Regions from separate parts of the Homo sapiens genome. Here regions 1 and 2 are each linked to region 3. Evidence: fine-mapped expression QTL. A gene starts in region 3. Each other region holds a variant in brackets. All regions are shown on one strand. Distances are from middle to middle. Region 1 has its middle 46 kb from the start of PLIN2. Region 2 overlaps HAUS6 (HAUS augmin like complex subunit 6). Region 3 holds the start of HAUS6 (HAUS augmin like complex subunit 6).

What was found. PIP is the estimated chance that this variant, and not a neighbour inherited with it, causes the effect.
Region 1: its variant is the best candidate, but not a certain one, in a credible set for the expression of HAUS6 in subcutaneous fat (GTEx, PIP 0.54).
Region 2: its variant is the best candidate, but not a certain one, in a credible set for the expression of HAUS6 in fibroblasts (GTEx, PIP 0.68).

Annotation. Positions count from the first base shown.
Region 1 is chr9:19,168,243-19,179,462 of GRCh38, forward strand. No RefSeq gene overlaps it. Among named protein-coding and RNA genes, the nearest start is that of PLIN2, 46 kb to the left of the region's middle. The variant G/A (reference allele first, on the strand shown) is at 6,194.
Region 2 is chr9:19,054,105-19,059,104 of GRCh38, forward strand. It overlaps HAUS6 (HAUS augmin like complex subunit 6), which reads right to left. Exons shown (of 17, transcript NM_017645.5): 16 at 3,857-4,897; 17 at 1-2,300. The coding sequence ends at 2,239. Among named protein-coding and RNA genes, the nearest start is that of RRAGA, 7.2 kb to the left of the region's middle. The variant G/A (reference allele first, on the strand shown) is at 2,652.
Region 3 is chr9:19,099,852-19,110,198 of GRCh38, forward strand. HAUS6 (HAUS augmin like complex subunit 6) reads right to left here and starts at 3,053. Exons shown (of 17, transcript NM_017645.5): 1 at 2,673-3,053. The coding sequence starts at 2,800. It also overlaps a transcript of PLIN2 not described here. RefSeq lists an enhancer at 2,732-3,295.

The DNA.
Region 1 (11,220 bases), 69 kb after region 3:
CTCGGCTCACTGCAAGCTCCACCTCCTGGGTTCACGCCATTCTCCTGCATCAGCCTCCCAAGTAGCTGGGACTACAGGCGTCCACCACCACACCTGGCTAATTTTTTGTATTTTTAGTAGAAACGGGGTTTCACTGGAGATTGTAACACATATCTCAGAAAATGAGAGCTCAAGCCAAAAAAAGATTTATTAAGAGTATGAAGGGCTGGGCGCGGTGGCTCACGCCTGTAATCCCAGCACTTCGGGAGGCCGAGGCGGGCGGATCACGAGGTCAGGAGATCGCGACCATCCTGGCTAACACGGTGAAACCCCGTCTCTACTAAAAAAAATCCAAAAAAATTAGCTGGGAGTGGTGGCGAGCGCCTGTAGTCCCAGCTGCTTCGGAGGCTGAGGCAGGAGAATGGCGTGAACCCAGGAGGCGGAGCTTGCAGTGAGCGGAGATCGAGCCACTGCACTCCAGCCTGGGTGACTAAGCAAGACTCTGTCTCAAAAAAAAGAAGAAAAAAAAAAAAGAGTATGAAGATTTGTACAACACAATTAAAGCAGTTCCTCAAATGACCTACATAGAACTCTGAAACCAAATATTAGAGAAAAAACTTTTTCTTTTCAAGCACAAAGGATTACTTAATAAAACTGACAATGTACTAAGCCAAAAGAGAGGTCTTCTTAAATTAAAAAATCAATATTATATAATCCAGATCCTCAGATCAGAATATAATAAAGTAAAAAACTGATAACAAAAAGATAATTTAAAAATGAATTAGAAAATAATAATAGTTCAAAAAATAGCAAAACACCCATATTTATGCAGCCTTTGACTTTCAAAAAGGAACCAAAGCAATCCAATGAGTAAATGAAAGTAATTCAATAAATTATGCTGCATATCCTTATGGAAAAAATAAATCCCTTCCACCAGCTCATAACACACAAAAATCATTTTGAGATAGATCATAAACCTAAATGTAAAGCTAGAACCATAAAGCTTTTAGAGGAAACATGTGAAAATAACAGCTTGACTTGTGAATAGGTGAAGGTTTGAGAAAGCAGTAGACTTCATCAAAAAGAAATACTTTTGGTTACCAAAAGCCACCATCGGCTAGGCATGGGAGGCTGGGGTAGGAGGATCACTTGAGTTCAGCCTAGCCTGGGCAAAATAGGGAGACCCATCTCCACAAAAAATAAAATAAAATTAGTCTGGCACGGTGGCACGTGCCTGTAGTCCCAGCTACTTGGGAGGCTGAGGTGGGAGCGTCTCTTGAGCCCGGGAATTTGAGGCTGCAGTGAGCTGTGGTCGCTTCACTGCACTCATCCTGAGCAACAGAGCAAGACCCTGTCTCAAAAAACCAAAAACCAAACAAAACATGCTGAACGCAGTGGCTCATGTCTGTAATCCCAGCACTTTGGGAGGCCGAGGGAGGCGGATCATTTCAGGTCAGGAGTTTGAGACCAGCCTGGCCAACATAGTGAAACCTCCTCTTCACTAAAAATACATTAATTAGCCAGGTGTGGTGGTGCGGCTATAGTGCCAGCTACTCGGGAGGCTAAGGTAGGAGAATTGCTTGAAGCTGGGAGGCAGAGACTGTAGTGAGCTGAGATCATGCCACTGCACTCTAGCCTGGGTGACAGAGTGAGACTGTCTCAAAACAACAATAAGCCATTTTTTTTTTTTTTTTCCTGAGATGGAGTCTTGCTCTTGTTGCCCAGGCTGGAGCACAGTGGTGAGATCTCAGCTCACTGCAACGTCCGCCTCCCAGTTTCAAGTGATTCTCCTGCCTCAGCCTCCCAAGTAGCTGGGATTACAGGCACCCACCACCACACCTGGCTAATTTTTGTACTTGCAGTAGAGATGGGGTTTCACCATCTTGGCCAGGCTGGTCTTGAACTTCTGACCTTGTGATTCACCCGCCTCGGCCTCTCAAAAGTGCTGGGATTACAGGCGTGAGCCACTACGCCCGGCCTTTTTTTTTTTTTTTTTTTTTTGAGATGGAGTCTCGCTCTGTGCCCAGGCTGGAGTGCAATGGCTCGATCTCGACTCACTGCAACCTCCATCTTGCGGGTTCAAGTGATTCTCCTGCCTCAGCCTCATGAGTAGCTGGGATTACAGGCACATGCCACCACGCCCAGCTAATTTTTGTATTTTTGTTAGACATGGGGTTTCACCATGTTGGTCAGGCGGTCTCGAACTCCAGACCTTGTGATCCGCCCACTGCGGCCTCCCAAAGTGCTGGGATTACAGGCATGAGCCACCGTGTCCAGCCCAACAAGCCACCACTAGGAAACAGATGCAAGCCACACACTGGGGAAAAATTATTAACAAAATATATATCAGATAAGGCTGCAGTATCTAGGATATATAAGGAATTCCTACAACTCAGTAATAAAAAGACAACTCATTTTTTTGAAAGGGAAAAATATTTCAATAGATACTTCACCAAAGTAGGTATGTGGCTGGTCGTGGTGGCTCACGCCTCTAATCCCAGCACTTTGGGAGGCCAAGGCAGACAGATCACCTGAGGTCAGGAGTTCAAGACCAGCCTGGGCAACATGGCAAAACTCCGTCTCTACTAAAAATACAAAAATCAGCCAGGCATGGTGGCGTGCGCCTGTAATCCCAGCTACTTGGGAGGCTGAAGCAGGAGAATAGCTTGAACCTGGGAGGCGGAGGTTGCAGTGAGCCCAGATCATGACACTGCACTCCAGCCTGGGTGAAACACACACAGACACACACACACACACACACACACACACACACACTAATAATAATAAAAAGAAGATATGTGAGTGTCCAGTAGCACATGAAAAGATGGTCAACATCATTGGTGTTCAGGGAAATGCAAACTAAAACCTGAATGACATACTGCTACACACCCACCGGGATGGCAAAAATTTTTTAAATAGTGAGGATGTGGAGCACCAAAACCTCATACACTTATTAGTGGTCATTAAAACTTAAAAGTATTTTAAGAAAAACTATTTGTGACTTTCCTCTGAATTTTCTTCATATCTATCAACATACACTACAGGCAGGCAAAGAGGAGAAGGATGGGGGCAGTGGGGGATGGGAATCTCAGGAAAAATGGAAAAAGTTTTCCAAGGACGGAGGTGAAACAGAGAGAAAAATAATGGGAGGAAAGTAAATAATAGAGACAAGAGGAAAACAGTAGGAGGCAGAAGCAAACTGTGAGCTACAGAAGGAAGAGGCAGTTAGGAGGAGAATAGACATGTGAAATCAAAGTGTGAAAATGAGATGATATATAAAGTGCCTAAAATAGCACCTGGCATATAGGATTACATAATATTCAAATACAGTTATTAACTAGAAATCAGAGGGAAAAGTAAAAAAATGTCAAGTATTCTATAGCTGCTTTTTTTTGTTTTTTTTTGTTTGTTTGTTTTGTTTTGTTTTGTTTTTTGAGACGGAGTCTCACTCTGTAGCCCAGGCTGGAGCGCAGTGGCGCAATCTTGGCTCACTGCAACCTCCGCCTCCCGGGTTCAAGTGATTCTCCTGCCTCAACCTCCCAAGTAGCTGGAATTACAGGCATGGGCCACCATGCCCAACTAATATTTGTATTTTTAGTAAAGACTGGGTTTCACTATGTTGGCCAGGCTGGTCTTGAACTCCTCACCTCGGGTGATCCACCCACCTTGGCCTCCCAAAGTGCTGAGATTACAGGTGTGAGCCACTGCACCCAGCCGATAGCTGCTTATTGAATAAATGTTTAGGTGCCCTAGTGATGCATAAAGTACATTGGTTCTGTAAGTGTTCTGTGCTAAATTAGCATTGTATATTGCTAACGTTAGTTCCCCCCAACCCCATAGTTCTATTTCTATCTTAATTTGAGCCTGTTATTGTTTTAGGTCTATTGTTGAGGCAGCAGCAAGGAATATTCAGGATGTAATTTGGTTTCTCATTTCCTGGCAACAATCACGTGAGAGGCAAATGAGAGGCTTTTGCTGAAAGGCTTTTTAAATCTGTAGTAATGAGAACAAATATTAAGTAATCCACTTGTGGATAAATAAAAGTTGCAGTGCTATGATTCAATCTTCATCTGATGAAACCAAAGTTCATTATGAAAACATAATTACACTCAAGATTCTGTACTGGGGCAGGGCTTGGTGACTGATGCCTATAATCTTAGCACTTTGGGAGGCCGAGGCAGGAGGATCCCTTGAGCCCAGGAGTTTGAGACCAGCCTGGGCAACATAGGGAGACCCTGTCTCTATCTTAACAACAACAAAAAAAGATTCTGTACTGAAATGTGATGTGAGGTTGGAACACTTACTGCATGGGAAAGTTGCAGGCGATGTCTGAGTTTCCCTGTGCAGGTTGTGAAACATACAACCAATTAAAAATTACTTTATGGCCAGGTGCGGTGGCTCACACCTGTAATCCCAGTACTTTGAGAGGCCGAGGCGGGCGGATCATGAGGTCAGGAAATTAAGACCATCCTGGTTAACACAGTGAAACCCCGTCTCTACTAAAGATACAAAAAATTAGCCAGGCGTGGCACGCTCTTGTAGTCCCAGCTACCTGGGAGGCTGAGGCAGGAGAATCGATTAAACCCAGGAGGCAAAGGTTGCAGTGAGCCAAGATCGCGCCACTGCACTCCAGCCTGGGCAACAAAGCAAGACTCAGTCTCAAAAAAAAAAAAAAATTACTTTAAAGCACTCCTCAAGTATAAATAAATATCAGCATTCTGAAAAATGAAGGGGACTGAAGGTGGTGAGTGCCAGCACATTTTTCTTCCCCAAGAGGAAAAAGAGATATGGCAAAGGATGCCGATTGAATGATAAGATGCCTAGTGTGGTTGGTGCAGGACTACCCTCATGTGTTTGGCAGTATAAGCGGGCCTTTAATCACCCACCTGCCGGTTGTCATACTTCGCATCACCCCTCTCCCCATCACGGGGAAGGGGAGGACATGTCCCTTCCCCAACTCGTGTCTGCCAAAAATGCATTCATGCTACTATTGTTATTCCTTCTCATGCCAAATCTCATCTGTTTATTAGCCTAGGACCTGGGGCAGGGGGCAGTAAGGTTGGGGGATCACTTGAGCCCAGGAGGTCAAGGCTGAAGTGAGCCATGATAGTGCCACTGCACTCCAGCCTGGGTGACAGAGCGAGACCATGTCTCAAAAAAAAAAAAAGACAGAAATTTCTAAATTGTCTTCTATTAACAGTAATCATAAACCAGTGTACACTCTCACTAAAAATATATGAGAATGCCTATTATTCTAAACCAAATATCAGAACTGTTGATATTTACCATGTAAGTTAAAATAGCATCTTTTTGTAGTTTAGTGTGCATTTCTTTTATTATGAAGAAGATTGGGAATCTTTTCCAGAATTTGGGGAGGTAGGTGGGTAAACAAACACAATACAAAAGTACTGTGACAAAGAGTTTTCTAGGAAGGTCAGATAAGGTCCCACAGAGGAGGTGGCATTTGATCTAGGTCCTGAAGGATGAGGGGGAATTCCGCCATGGAGCTTATTGATCCTGGTATGTAGTCAGCCAAAATGTTCAACAACTATATGTTGACTTAAGTGATAAAATCAGCCAGGTGCAGTGTCCCACGCCTGCAATCCTAATCCCAGCACTTTGGGAAGCTGAGGTAGGAGGACCCCTTGACTGCAGGTGTTCAAGACCAGCCTAGACAACACAGGGAGACCTCATGTTTCCAAAAGACACAAAAATTAGCCTGGTGTGGTGGCCCGCGCCTGTAAGTCCCAGCCACTCTGAAGGCTGAGGCAAGAGGATGACTTGAGCCCAGGAGCTTGAGGCAGCAGTGAGCTGTGACTATGTCAATGTACTCCAGCATGGGGAACAGAGACTCTGTCTGAAAAAAATAAAAAGAAGTTATAAAATTGAGATGTTTGGGTTGAGGTGAGAGGATTGCTTGAGTCTAGGAGTTCAAGGTTGCAGTGAGCTATAATTGCACCACTTCATTCTAACCTGGGCTACAGAGCAAGACCCTGTCTCCTTAAATAAATAAATAAATAAACACATATATAAGACATATAGGCAACAAGTTTTCTGGATGGCTAAGGGGATTTTTTGCTATACGTGGCAAGACACTGACACACAAATACCAGTACACGATTAAGCAAGCCACCCAGTATGACTGGGTCAGTCCCGGGGGAACTGGGCAGGAGCTTTATAGTGTACATCTGGTTTCTTCTACTTTTTGGATGTT[G/A]AGCGACATCTAATGGCCAAATAGGAAAAAGTCTATGTTTTCAGTTTCTTCTTTTCCTTTCCTTCTTTCTTTCCCTTCCTTCCTTCCTTTCTCTTTTTCTTTCTTTCTCTCTCTTCCTTCCTTCTTTCCTTTCTCTCTCCTTCCTTCCGTCCTTCCTTCCTTGTTTCATTCTCTCTCCTTCCTTCCTTCCTTTCTTTCTATCCCTTTCTCTCTTCCTTCCTTCCTCTATTTTTTCCTCCCTCCCTTCCTTCCTTTCTTCCTCTCCTTCCTTTCTTCTTTTTCTTTTCTCTCTGTCTCTCCCTCCCTTCCTTTTCTTTCTTTCTTTCTTTCTTTCTTTTTTTCTTCCTTTCTTTTTTTGACAAGGTCTCACTCTGTTGCACAGACTGGAGTGCAGTGGCACAGTCACAGCTCACTGCAGCCTTGATGTCCCGGGTTCATATGATCCCCCCACCTCAGCCTCCTGAGTAGCTGGGACTATAGGCATGTGCCACCACGCCTGGCTAATTTTTCCGTTTTTTGGCTGCCCAGGCTGGTCCAGTATTTTATTTTCAAAGAAAATTCTCTTGTAGGAACACATACACAACCTAAAAAAAAGTTTCTCCAGATTTAAGGAAAACTTGAGTCTTATTTTTCCCTGTGAACATAGAAGAAAACTGAATAAATTAGAGGTAAGCTAATTTTTTTTTTTTGAGACTATTTCTCTCTTGTTGCCCAGCCTGGCATGCAATGGCAATGATCTCGGCTCACTGCAACCTCACCTCCCGGGTTCAGGCGATTCTCCTGCCTCAGCCTCCCGAGTAGCTGGGATTACAGGCATGCACCACCATGCCCGGCTAATTTTTGCATTTTTAATAAAGACGGGGTTTCACCATGTTGGTCAGGCTGGTCTCGAACTCCTGACCTCAGGTGATCCACCTGCCCTGGCCTCCCAAAGTTCTGGGATTACATGCGTGAGTCACTGCACCCGGCCAGAGGTAAGTTAATTTGTGTGGTAATTTTCTTTTCTTTTTTCTTTTTCTTTTTTTCTTTTTTTTTTTTTGAGACAGAGTCTACCGAGTCTTGCTCTGTCACCCAGACTGGAGTGCAGTGGTGCAATCTCAGCTCACTGCAACCTCTCTCCCCCGGGTTCAAGCGATTCTGCTACCTCAACCTCCCAAGTAGCTGGGATTACAGGCGCCTGCCACCGCGTCCGGCTAATTTTTGTATTTTTAGTAGAGATGGGGTTTCAGCATCTTGGCCAGGCTGGTCTTGATCTCCTGACCTCGTGATCCACCCACCTCGGCCTCCCAAAGTGCTGGGATTACAGGCGTGAGCCACTGTGCCCGGCCTTGTGTGGTAATTTTCATCAAATGAAATAGAAAAAAAAGATGTTAGAATTGGAAGAGACCTTACATCCAATCTCCTCATTGTGTCAATAAGGAAATTTATGTCCAGAGAGAAATGATTTGCCCAAAGCCACACAGCTAGAGAGTTATTAATGCTGTAATATAGTCGTGATTTTGCTACAATGAAGAGAGGAACAGTGAATATATTTACCCATCCATTTGCAAAGCAAAAAAAAAAGGGCAAATACTTTCTGATTACTTTAAAACCTAATAATGTATAATATTGGCCATGCATGGAATTTAATACTATAATGCTCAATAATATAGTAGTTACTGGCAATTAGGGTCTTGGCCTAGGGTATTTGATTTTTCAGGCCAATAGTGGACAAAAACAGACAAATTCCTATGAATGCCAGACTACATTTCAAAAGACCCAAGTAAGATTTTGACCTCTGTAACCTGAGAGTTGCTTCCCTAATATTTCTCTTTGCCTCTTATCTGACAATAGGCAAAGTTGAGGTAGGAGATGAGTATCAAACCACATCATTTAATCAACCAACCCGTAAACATGTATATATCCCCTTTTGTATGTTTAGCATCACAAGGATTGTGGGGACACAACTGTATACATAATGGAGAACAAGTCATGGTGAACTCACTTCTCCTACCTGTTGATAGGAGTTGAATCAAAAGCAGCTTTGAGGTAGAAGGGAAGTTACAACAATACTATAACCACTCTTGCAGATATATTTATTAACTCATTGGTAAGTATTTGTTGAGTATCTACTATATACCAGTGCTAGGGATACAACAGAAATCCAGACCCAAACTCTCCATGAAGCTTATAACCTGGTAACTATATGCCAACAATTGTGATAAGTGCTACAAAAAGAAAGTACTGACCGGGCGCGGTGGCTCATGCCTATAATCCTAGCACTTTGGGGGGCCGAGGCAGGTGGATCACCTTAGGTCAGGAGTTCAAGACCAGCCTGGCCAACATGGTGAAACCCCATCTCTACTAAAAATACAAAAATTAGCCAGGCGTGGTGGCACATGCCTGTAATTCCAGCTACTTGGGAGGCTGAGGCAAGAGAATCACTTAAACCCGGGGGGTGGAGGTTACAGTGAACTGAGATCGCACCACTTCACTCCAGCCTGGGCGAAAAAGCGAAACTCCATCTCCAAAAAAAAAAAAAAGAAAGAAAAAAGATGATGCTTTGGACCAGAGTGGTATAGAAGGAAGTGGTGAGAAGGGTTTGGATTCCGGAAATATTTTTAAAATAATATCAACAGATATTGTTGATACTTTAATGTGGGGTATGAGAGAAAGAGAGGATTTAGGGATGATGCCAAGATTTTTGGCTTGAACTATTGGAAGGGTGGAGTTAGTGGCTGGGCACGGTGCTCACACCTATAATCTCAGCACTTTGGGAGGCCAAAGGGGAGCGAAATGCTTGAAGCCATGAGTTCGAGACCAGCCTGGGCAACATGGCAAAACCCTGTCTCTACAAAAAAATACAAAAATTAGCTGGATGTGGTGTGGTGTGCCTACAGTCCCAGCTACTTGGGAGGCTGAGGTAGGAGGATCGCTTGAGCCTGGGAGGCAGAGGTTACAGTGAGCCAAGATTATATCACTGTACCACTGCACTCCAGCCTGGTGATAGAGTGAGACCCCATCTCAAAAAAAAGAAAAGAAAAAGAAAAAAAGTGGAGTTACTGATAACTACAGTGGGGATTTATGTCATGTACATATCTTCCATATATGCATATATCTTTGTCACCTCTCAATAGTGCCTTCATGACCAGAATCTTTTTTTTTTTTTTTTGAGACAGAATTTTGCTCTTGTTGCCCAGACTGGAATGCAACGGCACGATCTCAGCTCACTACAACCTCCACCTCTTGGGTTCAAGCTATTCTCCTGCCTCAGCCTCCCGAGTAGCTGGGATTACAGGCATGCACCACTAAACCCAGCTAATTTTGTATTTTTAGTAGACAGGGTTTCATCATGTTGGTCAGGCTGTTCTCGAACTCCTGACCTCAGGTGATCCACCCGCCTTGGCCTCCCAAAGTGCTGGGATTATAGGCATGAGCCACTGTGCCTGGCCCCAGAATCTTAAAAATATATTGTTCATAGCCAATATATATTTATTATTTATGTGTGAGACATGATATCACTAATGTAAATATAATATTAACGGCTTTTTTGTTTGTTTTTGAGACGGAGTCTCACTCTTGTCACCCAGGCTGGAGTGCAATGGCACAGTCTTGGCTCACTGCAACTTCTGCCTCCCAGGTTCAAGTGATTCTCCTGCCTCAGCCTTCCAAGTAGCTGGGTTTACAGGCACCCAGCTAATTTTTGTATTTTTTTGTAGAGATGGGGTTTCACCATGTTGGCCAGGCTAGTCTCAAACTCCTAGCCTCAAGTGATCTGCCCGCCTCAGCCTCTAAAAGTGCTGGGATTACAGGCATGAGCCACTGTGGTGCCTGGCCCTGAATTTTTTTTTTTTTTTTTTTTTTTTTTGAGACAGAGTCTTGCTCCATTGGCCAGGCTGGAGTGCAGTGGTGTGATCTTGGCTCTCTGCAGCCTCTGCCTCCCGGGTTCCAGCGATTCTCCTGCCTCAGCCTCCTGGGTAGCCGGGATTCCAGGCACACGCCACCATGCCCAGCTAATTTTTTTTGTATTTTTAGTAGAGACGGGGTTTCATCATGTTGGCCAGGCTGGTCTTGAACTCCTGATCTCAGGTGATCCGCCTGCCTTGGCCTCCCAAAGTGATGGGATTACAGGTTTGAGCCACCGTGCCCTGCCACCCCTGAAGTATTTTTAATTGGACAGATTTTCTTAATTTTGAAGAATCAAATTCTTTAGGATCTGGAGATCCACTTCATTCTTTCTAATCTGTATGGTATATCACAGGATGTACCATAATTTAACCATTATCTCGTTTGATAGACATTTAGATTGCTTCCAACATTTTTCCTACAACTAAAACATCTTTACCACATATTTTCAAGCATATGAATAAGGACTTAAATAGGAGAAATCCTTTAAAATACTTTTGTTTTGTTTTTATTAGTTGGTTTTGAGACAGGGTCTCACTCTGTCACCCAGGCGGGAGTGCAGTGGTGCGATCACGGCTCACTGCAGCCTCGACCTCCCAGGCTCAAGCATCCTTTCGCCTCAGCCTCTGAGTAGTTAGGACTAGAGGCCCTCGCCACAACACTCAGCTATTTAAAAACAATCTTTAGTAGAGATGGGGTCTCACCATATTGCCCAGGAAAGTCCTGAGCCCCTGAGCTCAAGCAATCTGCCTGCCTCCAACTTCCCAAAGTGCTGGGATTACCGGCATTAGCCACTGCGCCCGTTCTCCTGTAAAATGCTTTCTAAAAGCAGGAGGCTGAGGCAGGAGAATCACTTAAACATGGGAGGCAGAGGTTGCAATGAGCTGAGATTGCACCATTGCACTCCAACCTGGGCAACAAAAGTGAAACTCTGTCTCAAAAAATAAATAAATAGGCCAGGCATGGTGGCTCATGCCTGTAATCCCAGCACTTTGGGAGGCCAAGGCGGGTGGATCACCTGAGGTCAGGAGTTCAAGACCAGCCTGGCCAACATGGTGAAACCCTGTCTCTACTAAAAATACAAAAAATTAGCCCGGCTGTGGCGGGCGCCTGTAATCCCAGCTACTCAGGAGGCTGAGGCA
Region 2 (5,000 bases), 48 kb before region 3:
GCTGTAATTGTGGTAAACTAGTAGAGGAAAGCAAGGTATTCCTGCTTCAGGAAAATTGTATATCAAGACCTCTAAAGACCCATGCTCACTGAAGCATTTCAGTAAAAAAATGGGAGATTACAGCGGAAGGGGGAGTAGAGGAAATCCGTTACAGGGGAACTTACATGCCTTTAAATTTGAACTCTATTTTAGAATTAACAATGAACAATCAATGGAATTTTAGGCAAGGAAGTGACCCAATCAAAACAGTTCCTTAAGATCAAAAGGTAACTATGTAGGAGATACTGGATAGGGAAAAGGCTGAAGGCAAAAAGCTGCCATCACATTGGTTTAGGAGAAGAAAGTGACAGATCTGAGATACTTTTTGTTTATGGTACTGGCATATGAAGAACAGGAAAGAATGCCAAAAACTTTCAGCCCATCACAGGTATAACTCAACAATGTGATTTTTACAAATCCAAAATGTCTACAGACATTCTGCTCTTTTGATTCTCAGTAATTAAGGGTTTCTCAGACTTGGGTGGCCAACTTGAGCTTCCCTATCAGATAGTTACCAATCTCTACCCAAGTATATATGCAACAACGTACCTGCTTCTTAAAAGTACCACAGGGTTAAATGTGAATCTCTATTTCCTAGCAGCAGTTCTCAAACTCTTTCTCGAGCTTAAGAATTACCAAGGAAGCACATTTAAAATATAATTAAATGAAATAATACACATTAAGTGTCTAGCAGTGGCTTTGGCACTTCTGCAGATGCTGATAAGACAGTATCACATGCTAAGTTAAGATTTTCAGATACTGAGTTTTCTTAAAGCAGACTAAAGGTTTCCCCATAGACCTGCATAGTCCCTGATTTGTTTTATTAACTAATAAAAGAAAACAGCAACTTAGGAGAAGATTTTTTCTTTCTCCTTTTCCATTGCAAAGAAGGTAGTTACATGTGCTTTCTTTTGTCTTTTCTCACAAAAAGATGGGTCTTCACACTGGGACAGGACAACCAACTTAGAGAAAGGCAGCCCAAGATAAAAGAAATAACTATTAAGCCATCTACTTCCATAAATTTCCCCTCCACCTTCTTTCCTTGCCAGTTTTTTGGGGGCTAGTGGACAAGATTTTGATGGTAGTGAGATGGGGTCTACAAAGGGTATTGTAGGTACTATCACCCTTCCATTGCCTGTTCCATTCCTCCTGGTTCACAGAGGGCAATAGTATGTGTTCACTTGGATGCTAGACACAAGTCTTTTTCTAGGCAGGGCACCTGAAGGAGTGAGGCAGGAGACTGCAAGTGTGACAAGTTATTTAACCCCAAGTTCAGTTTTCTCAAGTTACTGTGAGGCTATTCTGTAGGGACTGGGGGATTCTGATGGTTGTTCCTTGTTCCTTTCCCCCAACAGGGAGTACCTCACAAAAAAACCCAACAACAAAACAGACTAATGAAAATTTTAATTTATATTTTTGTTAAAATATAAAAGTAGCATTAAATTATCAAAGTCTAAATTAGACTAAATATAAATGTTATACAACCCACTGAATGGATTTATAGTTTGACAGTGTTCCTTGCAAGTGTCTACTCATCTTCCATCTTTTTCCTTTTTTTAAATCATTCTGCCCCAGTCTTCACTTAATCATCACATGCACTTTATTCCATCAAACATCACTTCTCAGGATCATTCTACCTGAAGAATCATTAAGCCTGTTTAGAGCTTTTCCAGTCTTAAAATTTGTCATCTTGACTACACATCCCAAGGTACTACTTTTCTCACTTTTTCTGGTTAGCCAGAATGTTCCATTAAGAAACAATAAAAGTTGTATAGTTCTCTAAGATGAAAGATTAGTATATTCAATGGCTATTATATTAACCATTTAGTGAACATACAACAAAAACTATCCTTATATTAATTGACTGAAGTTATAACATAAGAAATAAGTTACACTACTACTTTGTCATTCACTTAATGCTTACAAGATTACTCAAGAAATCAAAATGGCTTCCCATTGCTTGACGTTTGTTGTCCAAATACTTCACATTTCAATCTCATATACCTACAAAGAGGAAAAAATCCAAACATACTTTCCTTACCTAAAAATATTAAAGAAGGCTAAAAGGCATTAGGAATTTTTTTAAACCTTGAAAAACAGTGTTACACTTCCAACATGTATTTAAGTTGTAATTCATTTTCTATCCTGTGGCATAGCTTCAATTTAAGTGCATCATAGTTATATTAAATGGGTACGTCTTCATCTTGTCAAGTCAGACGGTGGTTCTTTTGCATCAAGGCTCTTATTCAAAATGTCTTCTTCTGCAAATTGATTTTAAAAAAGTATAAGCAAACATTACAAAGAAAAATAAACAATAGATTCCAAGCAATAGCAAATTTTAGTCAATACAAAAAAGGTTCATAGCTTTGCAAATACTTGATTATGATAAAATTATTATTATTCTCACCAAAGTACCCTCTTTCTCCAGAGATCAATACATTCCTCCCAGAGTACTTTTTTTTTTTTCTTTTTTCTGCGACAGGGTCTTGCTCTGTCACCCAGGCTGGAGTGCAGTGGCACGATCGCAGCTCACTTCAGCCTCAAACTCCCAGGCCCAAGCAATCCTCCCACCTCAGCCTCCTGTGTACCTGGGATCACAGGCATGCGCCAAC[G/A]TGCCCAGCTAATTGTTTAATTTTTTGTAGAGACATAGTCTCCCTGTGTTGCTGAGGCTAGTCTCGAACTCCTGGGTTCAAGTGATCCTCCCATCTCGGACTCCCAAAGTGCTGGGATTGCAGGTGTGAGCCACTGTGCCCAGCCAAATACTTTTCAATATGGCAGTGTATAACTATTATGGGCAAATCAGAGTATGTAATGAATCTGTATCACCAGATCCTTATCTCTCTTAATGAGCTACAAGAGCAATTTTTTTAACCTTTTATGAGGAAAACATTCAAACATACAAAAGTGAAGAGAACTGTGATTAACTCAATATATCCATCACCTAGCTTCAATAATTATTAATACTAACTGTTATGAACTGAATACCCCCAAAAACATATGTTGAAGTTCTAACCCCAGTACCTCAGAATGTGACCTTATTTGGAAATGTGGTCATTACAGATATAATTAGCTAAGTAAGATGAGGTCATACTGGAGTAGGGTGACCCATTAATTAGCTAATATGACTGTGTCCTTATAAGACAATACACACACAAGGGAAGAATACCATGTGACAATGGAGGCAAAGATTAGAATTACACTGCCACAAGCCAAGGAATGCCTGGTGCTACCAGAGGCTAGAAGAGGCAAAGAAGGATCCTCTTCTAGTGGCTTCAGAGGGAACATGGCCCTGTCAACACCTTGATTTTGGACATCTAGCCTCTAGAACTTACTGTCTCCAGAGACAATAAATTTCTGCTGTTCTAAGCCACCCACTTGATGGTGCTTTGTTATGGCAGCCCTAGGAAACTAATACACTGACCTGGCTTCTTTTATTTCTACACCCCACCCCCAGATATTACACCATTATAGTGATGATATTTAAAATTGGGTTTCTCAAGTGTTTAAAAACCACCTTCCACTGGGCAAGATTTTGATGACATTTACTTTTCAGTCATTTGTATTATAAAACCTGTAAGCTTCAGATTGGGGGGGCTTTTTTTTCCCACCCCTGTCTCAAATCAATTGTAACTATATATACATAAACAGAGATTCTGAAAGGACCTGTCCAGTGAGGGATCATTCCCCTCATCCTAAATGAAGGAAGGGGGAGCACATTAACAATAAAGGTCATGCAGCATTCTTTGTGTACTGGTTTTATCAAAAGTTGAGAGAAAACTTCAACAGGTGAATATGCATAGGTCTATTTAAACCTTACCCTTTAAATTAGGTAGTTCTCCAAGACTACATGCTATTGTGGTTCTCAATCTTTGTTCCACTGGAGAAAACTTAATTAGTGGTGAAAGAGACCGTTTTCTTTCACCGATGGACGTGCGTAAAGATGGCTTTATATGCTCAGTATGCAAATCACAGGTGTCCAAAAAGTTAAGCGTATCATCTGTTTGTACATTTTGGGGAGTAGGGCTCAATTCTGGTTTGTGTCTTTCGGGTGTTTGGGAATTCGAGAGGTAAGATTCTTCCCTTTTCTTGGAAAGAGATTTCTTCAGAGCCTCGTATCTACTGCGAAGAGCCTGTAAATTAAAGTCTGATTCTGGAGTAGTCTGTCTCCCTCCCACAACATCTTCTAGAAGAGTGCCACCATGCATAGGACTATTTGGCTCCAGTTTAAAATTGGCCTCTGAACTACTGGAACTATTAAAACTTAGATGACCAACTTCTTCCGGGAGAGTTTCGTGTAATATGCCAAAATCATTATCTTTAAAACTCTTAGAACTAATTCCACTTGATATCTGAAAAGAATTCCACAACATAGTTTTATTTGTGGAAGGTTTGTTACAAGAAACTTCTAAGTGGTCCAATATTTTCATAAACTCCTCTTCACTGCCACCCATCACATCTATCCTATTGCCGACAGCAGGGGAGAATGTCTCCATTCGGCTAGTTTCTGAAAGCTTGGTGAAGGCTAAACATTCCAAATCTTGCTTGCAAATTACTTTCTTATTTAACAAATCTGACTGATTTTGTGTTGGTGGTTCATCTATGTGACTGGTCAGCACATGTTTCTGAGGCACACACTCGCAATCTGAAATAACTTTCTCTTCAGTCAAATGAGACTGGCCAAAATCTGATACAGTGGTTTCTAAGAGAAAATCAGCCATGCTAAATTCTCTTTGATTGTGCAACACAGGTAATGATTCTGGCAATACTTCTCTATGTTCAGCATCCATTTGAATTGGTTCTTTAGTTCTGTTTTCTTCCATTTCAATAGCTTTTCTCCATGAGCTCCTAATTTCAGTTACTAATTAAAGGGGAGAAAAACACAGTTTACTAACATTCCCAAACATAGAGCATGCAATGAATCATTTTATTTCTAACACTGAAGATAAAGCTCCTGACTCAGT
Region 3 (10,347 bases):
CCAGCCTCCACAACACAGTGAGAACCCATCTCTACAAAAAGAATAGAATTAAACTTAGCTGCCCAGGTGTGGTGGCTCAGGCCTATAATCCCAGCACTTTGGGAGGCCAAGGCAGGTGGATCACAAGGTCAGGAATTTAAGATTCCGCCTGGCTAAGATGGAGAAACCCGGTCTCTACTAAAAATACAAAAAAATTAGCCAGGCGTGGTGGCAGGCGCCTGTATTCCCAGCTACTCAGGAGGCTGAGGCAGAGAATTGCTTGAACCAGGGAGGCGGGGGTTGCAGTGAGTCCAGATCGCACCACTGCACTCCCGCCTGGGCGACAGAGCAAGACTCCATCTCAAAAAAAAAAGAATTAAAACTAGCCAGGCGTGGCAGCAGGCACCTGTAATTCCAGCTATTCGGGAGGCTGAAGTGGAAGGAAGGATCGCTTGAGCCCAGGAGATGGAGGCTGCAGTGAGCCACATTCAGGCCACTGCACTCCAGCCTGAGAGACAGAGCCAGACTATCTCAAAAAATAAAAACAAAAAAGTAAATTTAATGCCACATCCATGTTGAAAGCATTTAAAGTGGACATGTGTTACAAGATGGTGGATCCTGCAGAGAAAAGGGAATGCTTGTACTTTGTTGGTGGAATGTAAAGTAGTACAGCCATTATGGGAAACCATAGGCTCCTTAAAAAACTAAAAATAGAAGTACCCTATGATCCAGCAATCCCACTGCTGGGTATATATCCAAAAGGAAGGAGATCAGTATATGAAAGAGGCATCTGCACTCCCATGTTTAGTGACACATTATTCACAATAGTCGAGATACAGAATCAACCTAAGTTGAATGGATAAAGAAAACAGATGAATGGATAAAGAAATTGTGGTATATATACACAATGGAATATTATTCAGCCACACAAAAAGAAGAAAATCCTGTCATCTGCAGCAACATGGATGGGACTGGAGGTCATTATCTTAAGTAAAATAAACCAGGCACGGAAAGACAAATATCACATGTTCTCACATGTGAAAGCAAAAAAAGTGGACCTCATGGAGGTAGGGAGTAGAATGGTGGTTAACACAGTCTAGGAAAGGAAAAGGAGAGAAGGAGGGAGGAAGAGAAGTTGATTAATGGGTACAAATATACAGTTAGATAGAAGGAATAAGTTCTAGTGTTCAATAGTACATAAGTGAAACTATAGTTAAAAATAATTTATTGTGTATTTTAAAATAGCTAGAAAAGAACTGAAATGTTTCCAACACAAAGGAAAGATAAATGTTTGAGATGATGGCTATCCCATTTATCCTGATCTGATCCTTATACATTGTATAAGTGTATCAAAATATCAAAATTTTATATCCCCAAAATATGTACAACTATGAACATAAATAAAACAGGCCAGGCTCGGTGGCTCACATCTGTAATCCCAGCACTTGGAGTGGCCAAGGCGGGGGGATTGCTGGAGGCCAGGAGCTCAAGACCAGCCTGGGCAACATGCCGACCCTAGGCATGGTGCCACGCACCTGTAGTCCCAGCTACTCAGGAGGGTGAAGTGGGAGGATCGCCTGAGCCCAGGAGTTGGAGGCTGCAGTGAGCTGTGATCGCACAACTGCACTCCAGACTGGGCGACAGAGTGGGAGACCCTGTCTCAAAACAAAAAACAATGGCTCATATCTATAATCCCAGCACTTTGGAAGACCGAAGCAGGAGGATTGCTTGAGCCCAGGAATTTTGAGACCAGCCTGGGCAACATGGTTAGCTACTGTCTCTAAAATAATAATACTTTAAAAAAATAGAGGCCGGGCACGGTGGCTCACGCCTGTAATCCCAGCACTTTGGGAGGCCGAGGCAGGTGGATCATGAGCTCAGGAGATCGAGACCATCCTGGCCAACATGGTGAAACCCCGTCTCTACTAAAGATACAAAAATTGGTTGGGCGTGGTGGCAAGTGCCTGTAATCCCAGCTACTCGGGAGGCTGAGGCAGGAGAATCGCTTGAACCAGGGAGTTGGAGGGTGCAGTGAGCCGAGATCGTGCCACTGCACTCCAGCCTGGCAACAGAGGGAGACTCCATATGAAAGAAAAGAATTCCTCTTGGCCTACAGTGGGAATGATTAAATAGAGATACTGGCTAAAGTTGATAAAACAGAAGTGGAAAAAGTAGGGAAGGGGCTTTTACTTTCCATACTTTTCTTAAAAGGGTATTTGTTTTTAATACCCTTCTCCGTTGTTTTATGCTAACTCCAACATGCCTTACTAATTAAAAAATTAAAAATTATAAAATTAAACAACCACCTTCAAAGGCTCCCTTGAGTCCAAAAGGTGTTTTGTACATATGGTTCCCATGCTCTTCCACTACCACCCGCCATCCCTCCCACTACTTCACAGACCACCCCTCCACCACATAGGCAGAGTTAAGCTGCTCCTCCAGTCTTGCACTCTCCCCATCTGCAGACTTTTGCACTCCCCTACAGAGCGCTTCCGGCACTCTTGCATTATTTACTGTCTGTCTCTGCCCCTAGGCTGGCAGCAACTGGGAGTAGGAACTTTGGAGCCAATGCCTGGCACAGAGTAACTGCTCAACCAATTCTGATTAATCAACCTCCGGGGTCTACAAAAGGGGGAGTCCCCCGGCGTCCCCCGGTTCAGGCTCCCTCGCCCCGCCGGCCCCGGCCTCCTTACACTCCGAGGTGCGTGTGCGACACGATCTTTCCGCAGGCAATGGTTGCCGGGCCTGGCTCGAAGCCGAGCGCCTGCAGATACATCCAGAGATGCTCCTTCTCGAAAGCGGTGACCGAGGCCGAGCTCATCCTCGCGGTAGGCACGGTGGCTGCAAAGAAAGAAAGCGCAAGCCCAGGGGACTCGGAGGGCCCTCAAGATCCCTCCCTACGGTCAGCCTGAGGTCGCGGTGGTCCTTCCATTGCCAACGCCTGCTCCTTTCACGCCCAGAGCGATTTCGCCTCAAAGGGCCTCACAACCTCCGGGAAATTGAGTTTCTAACGGTATAGTGCGGCCACCACTGCCTCAGCGAAGCCACCACAAACCGAGACTCCCGCCCTTAAGGAAGAGCAGTGTGCGCCGGCGCCGCCAGGCGTCCGAGGGAGGAGGGACTTCCGGCAAAGACTATATCTCCCGCCATGCAATGCGTCCTTCTCTCCTCCCTTCCGGCCATGCCCAGCCAAGAAACTGCAAGACCCACCGGGCATTGCGCGGCCAGCGACTTGCTCTGCGCTTGCTTAACCGCTGTCGTGCCCAGATCCTCGGGCCTTCGGGTTTCTGATTCTTGGTTAGTGGGGTCCATTTGCTTGTGTATCCTAGTTGTTACGTCACAAAAAAGCCATAAATGGAGCACTATGCCTCGGTGTAGAGTTAAAGCATTGGTTCCATCCTCCGCTATGCTCACTGTGACTCTAATCAAGTCACGTAATCTCTGAGCCTCATTTCTGTCGTTAGCGAAATCTATGTCCTCAAATGCCGGATGTTCCTTTTCCTGCTTTAAATGAAATCTGGCTCTATACTCCCCTGCAGTCCTGCAGTCTTTTTTTTTTTTTTTTTTTTTTTTGAGACGGGGTTTCGCTCTTGTTGCTCAAGTTGGGGTGCAGTGACGCGATTTCGGCTCACTGCAACCTCCGCCTCCCGGGTTCAAGCGATTCTCCTGCCTCAGCCTCCCGAGTAGCTGGGATTAACAGGTGTCCGCCACCACGCCCGGCTAATTTTTTTGTATTTTTAATGGAGACGGGGTTTCACCATGTTGGCTGGCTGGTCTCGAACTCCTGACCTCAGGTTATCTGCCGGTCTTGGCCTCCCAAAGTGCTGGGATTACAGGCGTGAGCCACTGCGCCTGGCCGCCTGCAGTCCTCTTAATTTTTTTTTTTTTTTTTTTTTTTTTTTTGAGACGGAGTCTAGCTCTGTCTCCCAGGCTGGAGTGCAGTGGCGCAATCTCGGCTCACTGCAAGCTCCGCCTCCCAGGTTCACGCCATTCTCCTGCCTCAGCCTCCCGAGTAGCTGGGACTACAGGCTCCCACCACCACGCCGGGCTAATTTTTTGTATTTTTAGTAGAGACGGGGTTTCACCCTGTTAGCCAGGATGGTCTCGATCTCCTGACCTCGTGATCCGCCCTCCTCGGCCTCCCGAAGTGCTGGGATTATAGGCGTGAGCCACCGCACCCGGCCCGTCGTCTTAATTGACAGCTGTTGCCTACCACAAACCCCACTGACAACAGGGCCTGGAAGTGGATTGGGTAACCTGCTTTTAAGTCTCATTGCTACCTCTGGCAATGATTGTCTCCTGCCTCACTAAAATCACCTTAATAAAAGAGAGAGAGGCGGGGCACAGTGGCTCACGCCTATAATCCCAGCACTTTGGGAGGCCAAGGTGGGCGGATCACCTGAGGTGGGGAGTTCGAGACCAGCCTGACCAACATGTAGAAACCCCGTCTCTACTAAAAATACAAAATTAGCCGGGCGTGGTAGCGCATGCCTGTAATCCCAGCTCAGCTACTCGGGAGGCTGAGGCAGAAGAATCGCTTGAACCCGGGAGGCAGACGTTGCAGTGAGCCAAGATCCTTCCACTGCATTCCAGCCTGGGCGACAAAGTGAGACTCTGTCTCAAAAAAAAAAAAAAAAAAGAGGAGAGAGAGAGAGAGAAAGAAAGAAAAGCCACTAAGTTGCCCAGGCTGGGCTCGAACTCCTGGGCTCAAGCGACCTGCCCACCTTGACCTCCCAAGGAATGAGCCACCGTGCCCAGCCTAAAAGCACCTTTTGAAGTTTATGCTATCACCCATAGCTTTTCATTATGGAGGTCATCTGTAAGATCTCTGACTCCATTCTGGTGGTGCACGCCTGTGGTCCAGCTGCTCAGAAGGCTGAGGTGGGAAAATCACGTGGGCCCTGGGAGGCTGAGGCTGCAGTAAACTGTGATTGCACGACTGCACTTCAGCCTAGTGACAGAGCAAGACCCTTCTCAAAGCAAAAGAACAGCCACAAAAAAAAAATCTCTGACTCCTGTCGACAAAAAGAGTCAAAGTCTGTAAAATTGTTGCCGGAAAAAACAGAGTCCTGATCCAGACCCAAAGAGAAGGTTCTTGGATCTCGTGCAGGAAATAATTTGAGGTGAATCACAGAACACAATGAAGGAAGCAAGTTTATTGGAAACTACTCCGTTGAAGAGCGGAGCAACCTCAGAAAGCAGGCGGAGGAACACAAGGTCCTTTGTTACTGTCTCTGCTTGTAAGAAACTATAAAGAGCTGTGATTAAACTTGGAATGCGCAGATGTGCTCACTAAAGGTAGGGCTATTGTGCTTTCAGAGACCATTAATCTTTCAACCTAAGCTTGCTCATTAACGTCATCTTTAAGTAAAGTGGGCTGCTCTTTAGAACATCTGGACATTCTGCAGGCTTAGTGGGAGATGTCCTGTATGGCCATAAATATTCTGTAATTATAATTGGTGGCCAGCTTAGAATGTGGCTATTTTTAAACCATAAGCATTAATTTTATAGGAGCCTTGTAAGTGCCTAGCTACTTTAAGATGGAGTCACTCTAGTCATGTTTTATTAAACCAGAGGTCTGGTAAGCAGGGGTTCCTCTAACAGAATATTTAAAGAGGTTTATTCTGAGCCAAATATGAATGACCATGGCCTGAGGCACAGTCTCAAGAGTTCCTGAGAACATGTGCCCAAGATGATGGGGCTATAGCTTTGTTTTATACAGTTTTAGAGAGACATAAGACATCAATCAATACACGTGACGTATACATTGGTTCTGTACAGAAAGGTGAGGCAACTCAAAGTGGTGGGTTCAGGTCATAGGTGGACTCAAAGATTTTCTGATTGGGGCGGATGTGATGGCTCACACCTGTAATCTCTACACTTTGGGAGGCCGAGGCAGACGGATCACTTGAGGTCAGGAGTTTGAGACCAGCCTGGCCAACATGGTGAAACCCCATCTCTACTAAATATACAAACATTAGCCGGGCATGGTGGTGCGCACCTGTAATCCCAGCTACTCGGGAGGCTGAGGCAGGAAAATCGCTTGAACCCGAGAGGCTGAGATTGCAGTGAGCCGAGATCACACCACTGAACTCCAGCCTGGGCGACTGGGTGAGACTGTGTCTCAAAACAAAACAACAACAACAACAACAACAAAGATTTTATGATTGCCATTGGTTTAGAGTCAAGCTACTATCTAAAGACCTGGAATCCATAGAAAAGTTTCTAGGTCAAGATAAGTGGTTGTGGACACCAGGGTTAGTATGAAGTCTCATAGGTGGCCACCCAAAAGTACTAGAAGCTGGATGCGGTGGCTCACACCTATAATCCCAACACTTTGGGAGGCTGAGGCTGTGGATTGCTTCAGCCCAGGAGGCAGAGGTTTCAGTGAGCCCACATCATGCCACTGCACACCAGCCTGGGCAACAGAGCAAGACCCTGTCTCAGAAAAAAAAAAAAAATTTAGGCTAGACACAGCGGCTCACACCTGTAATCCTGCATTTTGAGAGGCCAAGGCAGGCAGATCACCTGAGGTCAAGAGTTCAAGACCAACCCAGCCAACATGGTGAAACCCCATCTCTACTAAAAAGACAAAAATTAGCTAGGCATGGTGGCAGACGCCTGTAGTCCCAGCTACTTGGGAGGCTAAGGCAGGAGAATCCCTTGAACCCAGGAGGCAGAGGTTGCAGTGAGCTGAGATCACATGCCACGCCACTGTACTCCAGCCTGGGTGACAGAGCAAGTATTGGATCCTCAGTTAATCTCTTCAGGATTGGGAGGGCCTGCCAGGGGAAAGATCTACTTATTTATTTATGAGACGGAGTCTCACTCTATCGCCCAGGCTGGAGTGCAGTGGCGCCATCTCTGCTCAGTGCAACGTCTGCCTCCTGGGTTCAAGTAATTCTCCTGCCTCAGCCTCCCAAGTAGCTGGGATTACAGGCATGCGCCACCATGCCCAGCTAATTTTTGTATTTTCAGTAGAGACGGGGTTTCACCGTGTTGGCCAGGCTGGTCTGGAACTCCAGACCTCAGGTGATCTGCCTGCCTCGGCCTCCCAAAGTGCTGAGATTACAGGCGTGAGCCACCAGCCAGCTTCTTTACAGATGTAGATTTCTCCCCATAAGCGACGACGTTGCAGGACCATTTCAAAATATAACAAAGAAACATATTTTGGGAAAAAATATTTTGATTTCCTTCTTTATCTGTCATGTGATATTATGCTAGTCAGGTTGGAAAGTAAGCTGGGTTATATAGGCTTCAACAAAACCCATCTGATGAGATTTTTATGGCTTGTAGGACATGACTCCCCAAGTTCTGTAGATAGGAATTTGGACAAGAAAGAAAAAAGATCAGAGTTTAGTTCTCACTCACTAGGCCTCATTCTAAGATTTGGCAGCTAGGCGCAGTGGCTCATGCCTGTAATCCCAGCACTTTGGGAGGCCAAGGCAGGAGGATCACTTGAGGCCAGGAATTCCAGGCTAGGCTGGTATTCTTCTGCCTCAGCCTCCTGAGTAGCTAGGATTACAGGCGTCCACCACCACACCTGACAAATTTTTGTATTTTTAGTAGAGACAGGGTTTCACCATGTTGGCCAGGCTGGTCTGGAGCTCCTGACCTCAAGTGATCTGCCCGCCTTGGCCTCCCAAAGTGTTGGGATTACAGACGTGAGCCACTGTGCCCAGCCTAATTTTTTAAGGTTTTTTGTTATAGAGAGAAGGTCTTACCATATTGCCCACACTGGTCTGGAACTCCTGGGCTCAAGTGATTCTCCCACCTTGGCCTCCCAAAGTGCTGGGATTCTAAGTGTGAGCCACTGCCCCCGGATTGCTTCTACAGTTTACTCCCTTAACTAATACTTTTTTTTTTTTTTTTTTTGAGATGGAGTCTCACTCTGCCACCCAAACTGGAGGGCGGTGGTGTGATCTTGGCTCACTGCAACCTCTGTCTCCTGGGTTCAAGCAATTCTCCTGCCTCAGCCTCCTGAGTAGCTGGGATTACAGGCCTGTGCCACCACAGCCCGGCTAATTTTTTTTTTTTTTTTTTTTTTTTGTATTTTTAGTAAAGACGGGGTTTCACCATGTTGGCCAGGCTGGTTTCAAACTCCTGACCTCAAGTGATCCACCCGCCTTGGCCTCCCAAAGTGCTGGGATTACAGGCAACTAATACTTAATGCGGCTCTGTGCCAGGCACTGCTTTATGCTTTTCACAAATGTTAACTATTTAATCTTCAGAGCAAACTTAGCCCTATTCCTGTTTTACTGATGAAAAAAATGAGGCATAGAGAAATTAAGTAACTTGCTGAAGGTCACACAGTAAGCAGCAGAGCCAGATTACAACCCAGAGTCTGAGCCCTTACCCATCATGCTATGCTTCCTCCCAGGTGACCTGCTTTTAGTCACATGCCCATCACTAGGCTAAGGGAAAGCAAAAACCTTGACCACTATACCCACTGAGACCTTCAAAAGAAGCATGAATGAATCATGGGAGACCAAAAGACAACAAATGTTCACTATACCAGTGGGAAAAAAAATCATGAAGTCAAGATTATACAGCCCAATTTTCATTATAAGTATTTCAGCAATTAAACTTTAATTATATTAAATGATTATATGACACAGAACTAGGATCTCTTACAAAAGTTTAGATCAGAGTGTCATTGCAATTAAGACCAATGTAGCCAAAAAATAGATTAACACTCTTCAAAGTCACAGGAATAAAAACAGGAAGTTTAATGTAATACAAATTGCGTATTCAACCAAAAGGGGTATTTTATTGTTGTTAGTTATTCAACATCTTGCCCTGAGAGGACAGGGCCATTAGCATGTGAATTATTTGATCCGTTCTCCTCTTCCAAAGCTATAATATCTGGAATTTCATCAGTCTCAGATGTCAAGTCTATGGTGGTGAAATCAAACACCTGTAAAAGAAGAATCTTGGATATTGAAACAAACACCGATGAAGTGAGTTGTCAGGTCCATCTGAGCTCATGGAGACTTTAGTGCATGTAGGTGAACCTTGCTTTGTCCATAGCTGTGCTTTTTGAAAAGATGTTTGTGGTCTTATTCCTGCAATTCCCTCATACTATAAAAGCACTAAGGAAACCTTTTAAAAAGGAAACTAACTAGTGGTGGAACCTAGTCAATGAAGCTTTTTTAAAAAATACCAGATATAAAGCATTTTTTGTTATTCAACTATTAATCTATTACTTTCTTAAAAACAATAATACCCCACTTTTCCATAAGCAAGTGTCTAGGCAAATGTTTAGCAACTGAGGAAACAAAAGGTCTTTTTATGGTTGAAACAGCCATCACAAAACCCTACCTCTTCCCTGCACAGGAAAGCCTTTAGGGACAAGAAACTCTATCAAATTTTATTTTATATACAATTTCGATAAGCTAGGTAATGTTTCTTAGCAAACAACAGATTAAAACAAGAAAATTAAGGCCAGCTGCAGTGGCTCACGCCTGTAATCCCAGCCCTTTGGGAGGCCGAGATGGGAGGATCACGAGGTTGGGAGATCGAGACCATCCTGGCTAACACGGTGGAACGCTGTCTCTACTAAAAATACAAAAAGTTAGCCAGGCGTGGTGGCATGCCCCTGTAGCCCCAGTTACTCAGGAGGCTGAGGCAGGAGAATCACTTGAATCCAGGAGCAGTGAGCCGAGGTTCACCACCACTCCAGCCTGGGCGACAGAGCGAGACTCTGTCTGAAAAAAAAAAAAAAGAAAGAAAAGAAAAAAAATTAATAACATAAAACGTATTACCAAAGGCTAGAATCTTGATAGTGGAGGAAAAAATGTAGCTGATTACCTAACAGAGGAAAAAGAGCTAACAGCAACAAAAATCCCTCAAAAAGACCAGGTGCGGTGGCTCACGCCTGTAATCCCAACACTTTGGCAGGTGGATCATGAGGTCAGGAGTTCGAGACCAGCCTGGCCAACATGGTGAAACCCCATCTCTACTAATAATACAAAAATTAGCCGGGTATAGTGGCAGATGACTGTAATCCCAGCTACTCGGGAGGCTGAGGCAGGAGAATTACTTGAACCCAGGAGGCAGAGGTTGCAGTGAGCCAAGATTGCACCACTGCACTCTAGCCTGGGTAACAGAGCAAGACACTGTTTACAGGAAAAAAAAAAAAATCCCTCAAAAAATAGAAGGAAAGAGGGAAATTGGGGAGTTATTGTGGGTTTTTTTGTTTTGTTTTGTTTTAGATGGAGTTTCACTCTCTCCCCCAGGTTGGAGTGCAGTGGCGTAATCTCAGCTGTCTGCAACCTCAGCCTCCCAGGTTCAACTGATTCTCCTACCTCAGTTTCCCGAGTAACTGGGATTACAGGCGTGCGCTGCAACCATGCCTGGCTAATTTTT